Regions from separate parts of the Homo sapiens genome. Here region 2 is reported to be linked to region 1. Evidence: microRNA targets listed by miRTarBase, many of them from high-throughput screens and not tested one by one. Region 1 holds a microRNA gene; the other region holds the end of a gene's coding sequence.

Region 1 (5,643 bases):
GTCAGCAGGTGGCGCTGGCTTCCGGGGACAGAAAAAAAACCCCTGCAGCAAACCCGAGTGGGTGTCACTGCGGCTGCAGATGGCGGCGGGGGAGGGATTTGTCATTTTCTCCCTGGGCTGCGGAGTCTCACGTGCCTGGTCCTGCACAGCCCAGAGCCGGCTTTGGGGGCGGGATGCGGTCCGGCGTGTCCACCGCCCTCGTTTGGACCCTGGACGCGGACGCAGACCCCCGTCCCCATGCAAGCCTGGTCCTGGGCTGCGGGGGCTGCTCTGGGGCCACAGCGAGCGCCGCCTCCGCCCCGCCCCGCGGCGCAGCGGCCCGAGGAAGGGCAGACTTAGCGGTGACCTCAGACCCTGCCCCACCTCCTCCCACGTTGCCGTGGCAACTGTCCAGGGCGCCCGCTGTGGGGGCGAGGGCCGCACTTGGCCGCCCTCCCGTCCCGCGGGGGCCGCCCCGCCGCCAGCACCGCGGACAGCGCCGCACCCTAGCCCGCCGCCCCACGCACCCGCCCGCCGCTCCCCGTGGACCCTCCCTTTGTCTCCCGGGCCCCGCCGCCCTCTGCGGGCGCCTGGGCGCTCCGCGCTGCGGACACACGTGGCCGGGGGCCGGCTGGCCGCAGCCTGGCCCCGGCCGCAGGCTCCCCCCTCGGCCGCCCTCGGCCGCCCCCACCCGCCCCGCGACGCCAGAGGCGTGCGGGCCCCTTTGTGTCCCGCGGCCAGATCCCCGGCCCGGCAGCTGGGCCGCACTCTGGGCGGGCGCATTGTTCGCCGGATTTGTCCGCGGCGCGAATGGCCGCCGGGGGCCGGGCTCGCCTTCCTCCCGCGGGAGGGGCGCTGGGCCGGACGGGCTCGCGGGCCATTTCCATGAGAAAGGAGCGGCGGAGGCGCCTCTCTTGGCATTCACCGCGTGCCTTAATTGTATAGACATTAAATCAAGGTCCGCTGTGAACACGCAGAGGGGCCCTCAGGGCTGGGGCGGGCGGCGAGCGTCGGGGCCAGGGTCGGGACCGGCTCGGGCTTGCGTGGGGTCCTCGCCCGAGGGGCGCGAACGCTCAGGCGTCTTCGCCGCGTGGCGGGCAGGGCGGGGGCGCTGCGCTCAGCCGACTGTGCTGTCCCAGTCCGCCCCCGACTCGGAGGAGCCCACACTTCTCCCCTTTCCGCGGCAGAGAGTGGGCCCCCAAGTGCGTCCCTCCGGGCGTTCCTGGAGCTGGGGCGCCCGGGAATCGCGAAGACGGATTCCGGGGGTGGGGGTGGTGAGCGCGTGCGCACCCGGCCGCCTCCCGCGGGGCTCCGAGGGGCGCAGAACCGCTCCGACTGGGCGGCGCGAGCTCCTCCGCAGCTGCCTTCCCCTGCCGTCGCCCTGCCCGTGCCGACCCAGGAGCGCGCACCGAATGCGGTTAAAAGAACGAATCTCGATGCTCAAAGATGAAAACTCGTCTCTTTTTACAACCCAGCGAGCTCGTCCTCTCCGCGCGCAGCGGGCCCGCGAGAAGGCGCTCGAGCTGTTCGTGGAGAGAAAGACGGGGAGACCCAGAGAGGCCGCTTGCCCGGCTCGCCCCGGCCCGGCCCCGAGCGTAATTACCAGTCCCGGCGGGAGCCGCTGCTGCCGCCTCCGCTCCCTGCGCCTCCCGCGCCGCCGCCAGTTCCCGCCTGCTCTTCGGCTCCCGGGGGCCCCGCGCGCTGCTGCCCTGGGCGGAGAAGGGCGCGGGAACCCCGAGAAGGGAGCCAGGCAAGTCCCCGAGCGCCGCAGGCCGGCTGCGAGCCGAGTGTCCACGGGGTCCACGCTGCAGGCGCCCAGCTCCTGCTAGCCCGGCCCGGCCCCGATGCAACTGTCCCCGCGCCCGCCGCCGCCGCCGCCGTCGCCGTTGCCTCCGCGCGTATCCGCGCTCCGCTCCGGCACCGGCCGATTATCACTGGGGCGCGCGGTGACGTCACCCGGACACCGGCCCCGCCGCTGCCTCCCCGAGGTGTCCTTGAGAACTGCGGGGCACGCGCGCCGCGCACACGCGCACACACGCACTGCGCGCCTCGTGCCTCCCGCGCATTCGCACCGCGTCCCGCCCCGCGCGCTCCTCGGCTCACGCGGACTCAGCCATCGAGCGCCCTCGACCGTGCCCTGCGCCCGGCGGCCACACGGAGACCCAAGGAAACGCCTGTCTCCCACACACTCCAGCCCCTCACATGGCCCTCCTGCACCCACGCGCGCAGCCCCTCCAGCTGCACATTGACACCTCTAGCCACACCCCGCCACGCGCACGCCTCGCCACGCGCACGCCTCGCCGGCACGCAGCCCAGCGGCACCCGCAGACACGCACCCGCACTCGGGCCCTGACCGCGGGTTCGCGTCTCCTGTCTGGCGCCTGCAGAACGCACTCTGCCGCGCAGCTCACACCGCGGTCCTCCAAGCCTCTCAGTCCTGAGAAAGGCAAGGGTCCCGCCGGCCTCCTGCGGATGGCCCTGCTGGGCTCCGTACAGTGGGGTGGGAATTAAAGGTCGTCCTTCCCCGCCCCCATCGGAGCTTGCGGTTCTCACAGTTTCAGACCGGGATGGGAGCTCTTGCCCGTAGGGACCACGGAATCACAGGCGACACTCCACGGCCCGACTGCAGTCACTGCCAGCTCGATAGGGTCCTTGGGGCGCCCCCGATCTGGCCCTCTAGGGCCAGGGATCAGTGGCTTCCCCAAGCCTCACCGTCCGGAGCCTCCCCCGCTGGCCTTTGTTTAGACTGCAAGGAGCGCAGGCCGGCGCGGCCGGCAGGCCTCTGTCCCCATCTCCTTCCTCCTAGGGCCAACCCAGCCCCTGCGCCATCTGCCCTCGGAGCAGAGCCTGGGCCTCCCTGGGAGCAGGTCCTGCTTCCTTCCTTTTCCACCCTCTCCAGCACTGCCCAGCCCATGGACAGCCGGTTAGGAAGGGCGGCAGGAACTCGGGTTGGTTCTGCCCGCACCGACTCCGCCGGTCCTCAACCATCAGGACGCCCCTCCCCCTTTGGTGCGGCTTCAACCTGACCCTTCCCAGCCGCAATTCCTCGCCCTTCGCAAGTGTCAGGGACAATCTTTCTTTCTCACAGGTCACGCACAAGCCCTCTACTCCTCCACAGCCCAAGGGGAACCTTCTGTTCCAAGCGCAAAGCTCTGGAAGCTGCCCCAAGCCTGCGGGTGCCGGCAGCCTCAGCAGGTGCAAGCCGGACGCTGGAGGGGCTGGAGGGCTGGGGAGGCCAGGCTGCAGCAGCCCCGCTTCATTGGAGACAGTTGCCCTTGGCCTCCAGTGGTCGGAATCGGACCCTCACCCTAATGAAACGGGGGCAGTCCCCAGGGCGGTCCTAGGCTCCCAGTCTGAGGCATCCGCTGTCCATGGTGTTGAAACGGAACCCTGAAACCTCCGCCTCACTTTCGGACTTTATACCCCCAGCCCTCTTCTCACCAAGGGTTGGGGCCAGGGAGGCCGGCTCCCGGCCCCCTCCCCTCCCGTCCCCCACCCTTAGCTTCCTGGACGGGTCCAGGACGCCTCGGGATTCCAGCTCCTTGGAGCTTGTTCCCATTCTAAGGGGAAAGACTCCTTAGCACCCCCCATCGGTACCTTGGCTTCGGGGACCCCAAATCTTTCTTTGGGTCTCTTTTCCGTACAGGACCGGCTCCACCTGGGGCAGGGTGGATCGCCGCCCCTGGCAGACCTGTTCCCTCACCTGGCGGAGCACCTTCGTCCTTCCCACTTTACCTTTGGCGGAGGGCTCTCTGGCAGGCCGGGGTGGGTAAGGTGGAAGGCTGGGGGTCGCCCCCTTCCCTTGGGTCACCCTAGATTTTTGTACATCCCTAGAAGAACCCGGCCCCTCTTGGAGTCCTGAGTAGCGATCGGGGTCCCCGGCTCCCCACTTCCACCCCCGGTGTGCAGCGGCCCCCAGCCAGGCGGGCTGGGGGAAGGGCCGTCCAGGGCTTGGGGGCGGAGCCGGCCGGTAGGAGCCGCGCGGGAAGGGGAGCCCGCCTGCAGCCTCTGCCCCGCCCGCCCCGCAGAGTCCGCTCCGGTGGGGACCTTTTCGGTGGCCCCGCGAGCTTCGTAGGTTTCATAAAAGTCAACTTACTGCTGCCGGGCCCGGGCTGGGGTCTGTGCTTCCCCCGCTCCGCGGGGGCCTAGTCTCGCCTTGCCCGGCGCCTTCTCTCCGCCGCCGCCCACGCCGCCGCCTCTCCGGAGCACACGGATAATTTGTTTGTGGATTTGTTTATTTGCCAGCTCCGGGGACAGTGGGGGAGTGAAAAGGGGCGCGAAGGTGGGGGCGGCGGCGCTGCCGGGCCAGCTCGGGCTCCCGGTTCCCGGCGGCCGCCTCGGTGCGCACAAAGGCCGGCGCGCAGCGGGGCCGGCAACTTCGCTACGGGTCAGGTGGCTCCGGCGGGGGCGGGAGCGGGAGGAGGGGAGGAAACACGGGCCGAGACCCCCACCCCCTCCCCCTCCCTCTTGTCCGCCATCCGTGAAAGCCTCCGAATAGCGTGGGATTAAACAAATCAACAGAACCCGTGGAGAACCCCTCCCTTTCCGCTCCTTCTCCCTCGTCACCACCCGCTCCTCCTCTGCGGGAGGCCTGTCATTCCTCCAGAAAGAGGAAAGGCCGCGGCCCACATCTGGGAACAGCTGGCTCACCACCTCTTGACCCTTGACCCTCGCCTCCTTTGGAGTCTGCTGCAGACCACCCCCCACCCAGCCCCTGCAGCATGCGGAGGTGGGGAGGATGTGGAAGGCCAGATGGAGGTGCCCACAGTACAGATGTGGGTGGCAGAGGGGGTGGGGACCCTTGCCTCCCAGTGGCCCACAGCTTCCCAGTTCCAGCTGGGGTGGTCAAAGGAGCTCAGAGGCCCCCACCCAGTGCCTCACCCAGGGATGGCGGAGACTTCTGTCTGGCTCTGCAGCAAGGCCTGGGTCCCCCTCCCACCCAGCATCTGTGACTGTGACCCCAAACATCTCCCCTGTGGGTAAGGGGGCCTCCCATTCCTCCCACGCCAGGCTTAACCTCCAGAGGTGGGCAGATGCTTGGTGCCATGAGGAGCAGGGGCCCCCGAAGGCCCATCCCACCTAGCAGGGGCCCTCTTCCACCCCCAGGAGCTCCAGGGACACTGCCAGGCAGCTTGATCCCCAGGACTAGGGGGTGGGAGTGCAAACATGGCAACTGGCCCCACGCACAAACTCAGAGGCAAGGTGCAGGGAGCAGGGAGACTCCATCTGCAGGTGCTCCCTCCACACCTGTCCCCTGGGCTTGGGTCTGGACGAGGCCAGTCGTGGGGCCCCGTGCCTGGTGGGGAGAGGGAGGGCCTCTCCTGGTCTTGCTCCTCCTCACCCTTTGTAGCGGGTGGCAGGGACCCCGCCTGCCTGAGCGCTGAGGGTGGGAGTGCAGCAACCGACCACAAAGACCTCGATTGTCAGCCCGCCCAGGCGCACAATAGGGTGGGGATAGCACAGGGCCTGGGGCCTCCGCATGGAAATGAGGCCACGGCCCCTTTCTCTCTGCTCCCGGCCTGGCCCCCTCCTCCCTGGCCCCAGTGAGAAGGAATACATAGACCTTGGACTGACCGTCCCAGAGGCGGAACTCCTTGTGGGTCCCGCCAGAGCTACTGGGCTGAGAGCTGGGCAGAATAGAGGCCAGGTAAGCACTGCGCCTGG
Region 2 (4,318 bases), not on the chromosome of region 1:
AGCTACCCTGCCGTGGCCAGTGCTGGATGAGGTGGCTGCACATCAGCACCTTGGTGGTCTTGGTTTTCTAAGCTCCCCGCAATTACTTCGTTTTCATTTCATTTACATTTCTTACATACGTTATACACACACACGTACAGCCAGAGTAGGTGGGAGAGGAGGCTCCTCACGCTCCACCCAGGGTTCTGGGCATTTCCAGGTTACTCCAGCCAGGATCATACTGCTAGATCTCAGCTTCTGAGCCGGGTGAATCTGTTCGCCTTGCCGGTGGCGGGGGGGGTGAGGCCAGCAGGCAGTGAGAGGCAGGTTGGATGTGGGCTCCAGGCCTTTGCAGACCGTAGAGAACTCAGTTGGCCTCTGCTCCTCCCCTCGACACAGGGATGCGCTGGATGCCCTGGGCCTGAAGCGCTACTGCTGCCGCCGGATGCTGCTGGCCCACGTGGACCTGATCGAGAAGCTGCTCAATTATGCACCCCTGGAGAAGTGACCACGCTGGAACCCACCCACCCGCTGTGCTGACCATGGGCCCTGAGCGTCCTGCCCCGAATTCACGAGGCTGAGGCATCCGGGAGCTGGCGTAATGCCTGGCCGCAGTGTGTGTGTATCCGATACCCCACTCTGGAAGGAACCATCCAGTAAAGGTCTTTCAGAACCACTAAGGTCCCAGCCCTCACTAGGATGTCAGGAGCCAGGTCTAGGCCCAGCTTTCACACTGTGGCAGCCCAGTGAAGCAGACTGGGCCATGAACTCTCCTAGCCCTGGGGCCAGCCTGTTCCACAGGCACCCCTGCAGGAGGCGCTGCCAGGAGAGCCTTCCATCTCGGGGCTCTTTGAGGTTCCCTCCTTCTGGGTGTTCTTCAGGCTGAGCAGAGAGGCTCCTGTACCCTCTCTCTCGGAATCTGAAGAGCCAGATTTAGGCCGGGCAAAGGGGCTCACCCCTATAATCCCAGGACTTTGGGAGGCCAAGGCAGGAGGATCACTTGAGTCCAGAAATTCAAGACCCGCCTGGGCATCATAATGAGACCCCATCTCTACAACAAAATTTAATAAATTAGCTGGGCACAGTGTTCACACCTGTAGTCCCGGCCACTCGGGGCTGAGGCAGGAGGATCACTGGAACCTGGGAGGTTGCCACTGCAGTGAACTGTGTTTGCACCACTGCACTCCAGCCTGGGCAACAGAGTAAGACTCTGTCTCAACACAACTATGAAAAAGAAGAGAGAAACAGATTTTCTGGGGCCCAGTCTCTGCTGTGGTCAGGGCTGCCAGTACCTGCTGGCCTCTGCCCACTGCTGCCTGTCCCTGAGCGTCCCACCCAAGCCCAGCAGGGAGGGCAGGCCTTAAGACGCTCCTAGCTGGGTTGGGAGGTGGCCCTAAGGAGGCCCTGCTGTCCAGGCAGTGCTGCCAGCAAGCACCCCAGGTCAGATGTCCCTGCTGCCCAGATATCTGGCGTGGTGTCCTCTGGTAGGGGAGAACGGGTCTGCCTGAGGGTCTACAGTTCTGAGCCTTAAGGACAGGAACCTGGGCAGTGGGGGGCACAATCAGTGACCGAGCCCTGGCTCCCATCTCCAGGGTACCTCTGCCAGACACCAGGCTCTGGTACCTCCTACCCTCTGGCCCCCAGCAGGGCCTATAGGCTCCTCCATGTAAACCCCCTCACCCTACTGCCCCCACCCCACCTGCCTGACACCTCTTACCTGGGCACGGCCCCCAGTCTGCACCCTTCCCACGTCTGCTCCCCACCATGGCCAGAAGGGTTTTGGAAACCATTTTTCCTCTCCCCCAGGGGCTCTGAACACACCATCTCACCATTTAGGAACATGTTCAGTTCTTTCTGCTGAGGCCTGTGCTCAGCTGTCCCTGGCATCAGACCTCCCTTCCCTGGAGCCCCATGGGGGGTGTGTCCTCCTGGCTCTGCCCTTCTTTGTCCTGACACTGGGCGGGGCGGGGGTGGGTCTGTCTGCCCTGCTGGATGCGAGGGCCCTGAGAACAGACCACCATCTGTTACCAGCACAGCGAGCTCGTCCATCTGCTCTACAAGTGTTTATTGAGCACCTGTATGTGGCAGGGATGGTTGTAGGCATCTGGGTACAGCAGTGAACAAAACCAGGAAGGCCCTGCCCCGCAGAGGCACATGAACAGGGCAGTGCACAGTGACCACGTGGCATTTCGGGTGGTGGTGACTGCGGTGGGGAAGACAGCAGGGGCGCTGTCGAGGGAGACGAGGGCTGGGTTGGGAGGGGCAGAGGCCCAGGCCCAAGGGTCAGAGCTCACCTGGCTTCCCCAACTGGGATGGGGCCATGTGGCTGCAAGGCAAGGCCCCAGTTCCTGAAGGGCCTGGGGTGTGAAGGGTTTCTCCCCCTGCTGGGAACGCTCGGCCTTGCGCCACTCAGCAAGGCCCCTTCCAACCTGCATCTGACCACCAGGCAGAGAGTGTGTCTGGGGAGCCCCACAAAACACCCCCCAAACTTCGCCCCGCCAGCCCCCCTCACCTCCCCTGCTGGGCATTGGTGCGCAGCAAAAGGCACTTGAAGCTGCCTCTGAGGTTGGGGTCCCCAGAGGTTATGGTGATGGCACAGGGTGGGTGTCATCAGGGAGCCCAGCCCCTGGTACTCAGTGGTCTCAGCTCAGTAGTTGGGTGCAGCAGCAGCAAGGCCCAAGGCAGGGTCAGTAGTGCTCCAGCTTGAGACTCCTGTACAGGCAGCACGTGAAGATCATGCCAAAGACCTGTGTGCAGAGCCGGGTGGGCGTAAGCAGACGTCATGGGGCCACCAGCCACCGCCCTGCCCCGTGTCCCCAACAAGATGACCGCCACCCCCATGTGCCCTCACCTGCACACAGGCAATGCCGATCCCCACAGCCCCAATGACCCTCAGGTGCTCCTGGATGAAGGTCTCCAACTTGGTGATGCAGCCGCCCTGCGGGGCGCGGATGGGTGTTGAAGGCGGGCCCAGGGGGCACCTCCCACTGGCCCCTACTGCCTCCAGCCTCCAGGGTGTGGCCAAACCCACCCCTAGCACCTAGGCAGCCAGGCCACCAACAGCTCAGCCAGCCACTGGGCTGCCCACCCACTTCCTCGTAGATATTGGAGGTGTGGTCTCACTGCCCACATCCGGCCACTGGGGTGACCCCCCACCTCCTGGTAGATATTGGAGGCGTGTCCCACTGCCCACAGCCAGTCACTGGGGTGCCCCCCCACCACCTCGTAGACACTGGAGGCATGATCCCGCTGCACACCCACCTCCACCTTGTAGATGTTGGAGGCATGGTCTCGCTGCCCACAAAGAGCCACCACCGTCTTGCAGCAGCTGTCTGGGACCACACGGCCACCGGCCTCCTGTGAGCGGATCCACTCACTGTCTCGCCAGTCCTGTGAGTTGTTGCTGCCACAGCAGTGGAACTGCATCAAGAACAAGGCTGGGGTTGAGACCTGGGGCCAGAGGCTCCTGCAGAGGTCCAGGGAGGCCCTGGGGATGCACGCGCCCTCCCAGCACCACCCACCCACCTCCTGCTGCAGCTGGTCCACAGCGCTGGTCACAGCCTCATGGCCCGGCTGGTGGTAGCGCTTGGTCATGGTGTCCTTCAGGTTCTCCTTGAGCTCCGTGTTCAGCTGGGGTTGGGGTGCAGGAAACTTCAGCCTCAGTCTAAGACCTTCCAAGGTGGGGCTGGCAGAGCCCCAGGATGGCCGGTGGGGAGGCCCGGGGCCCAGCTCAGAGCCACAGGGAAGGGCTGAGGTCACACCTCGGCATGAGGGGAGGTTGGGTGGTGCCAGGACCGTCACCAGGGTGACAATGAAGTGCGGCAGAGGCAGAGAGAGCTTCTGGATCCCCTGGACACCTGCCTGACCCCATGTGCCCCTGCAGAGACCTAGACCCCATCTCCAGGGCCCAGTGGCACATTGGTTAGCTCTGGGACCATGGGGGTGGGGGTTGGGGCTAGCCACGCGTGTGCATGTGTGTGTGTCCGCCCCGCCTGTGCATGTCTGTGTCTCTGAATGGCCTGCCCAGGCCCCTCACCTGCTGGTAGTAGGCGTAGGCGAGGATACCAGCGATGATCTCCAGCAGAAAGATGATGAGGAGCAGGATGAAGTACTGGGGGGGGCAGCACAAGGGCACCCTTGTTCTGAGGCCTAGTGCCTAGACCTAGTGCACCTCAGAGCAGAGTCCCCACCCCGGCTCCCCAGGCTCCAGGTGGGGGCTGAGGGGCGGCCACCCTCCCTGAAGCTTTCTTGCGGAGCTGGTGTCTTCCCTCAGCTGGTCCAGCAGGAACGTGGGGACCCACAGGACTAGGCAGGTGTGGAAGGACCGTGACCCCCCCCC

The links. Region 1 holds the annotated microRNA hsa-miR-124-3p (UAAGGCACGCGGUGAAUGCCAA, at 894-915, opposite strand). A microRNA usually pairs through its seed, bases 2 to 8, with sites in the 3' UTR of a target mRNA and lowers its output. Matches are read on the target gene's strand: a 7mer-m8 pairs with bases 2 to 8, a 7mer-A1 pairs with bases 2 to 7 and ends in A, and an 8mer does both.
Region 2: the mRNA of CD151 is a reported target of hsa-miR-124-3p. Seed matches in the 3' UTR shown: 7mer-m8 at 2,521-2,527.

What each region holds. Positions count from the first base shown.
Region 1 is chr20:63,173,824-63,179,466 of GRCh38, reverse strand. It overlaps MIR124-3 (microRNA 124-3), which reads right to left and starts at 967; the gene lies at 881-967. RefSeq lists a silencer at 183-472 and enhancers at 760-1,720, 4,621-5,195.
Region 2 is chr11:836,541-840,858 of GRCh38, reverse strand. It overlaps CD151 (CD151 molecule (Raph blood group)), which reads right to left. Exons shown (of 9, transcript NM_004357.5): 5 at 4,016-4,090; 6 at 3,505-3,609; 7 at 3,241-3,399; 8 at 2,831-2,917; 9 at 2,028-2,726. The coding sequence ends at 2,667. It overlaps POLR2L (RNA polymerase II, I and III subunit L), which reads left to right. Exons shown (of 2, transcript NM_021128.5): 2 at 379-1,138. The coding sequence ends at 487. Among named protein-coding and RNA genes, the nearest start is that of POLR2L, 3.8 kb to the left of the region's middle. RefSeq lists enhancers at 1-71, 1,899-2,873 and a silencer at 797-846.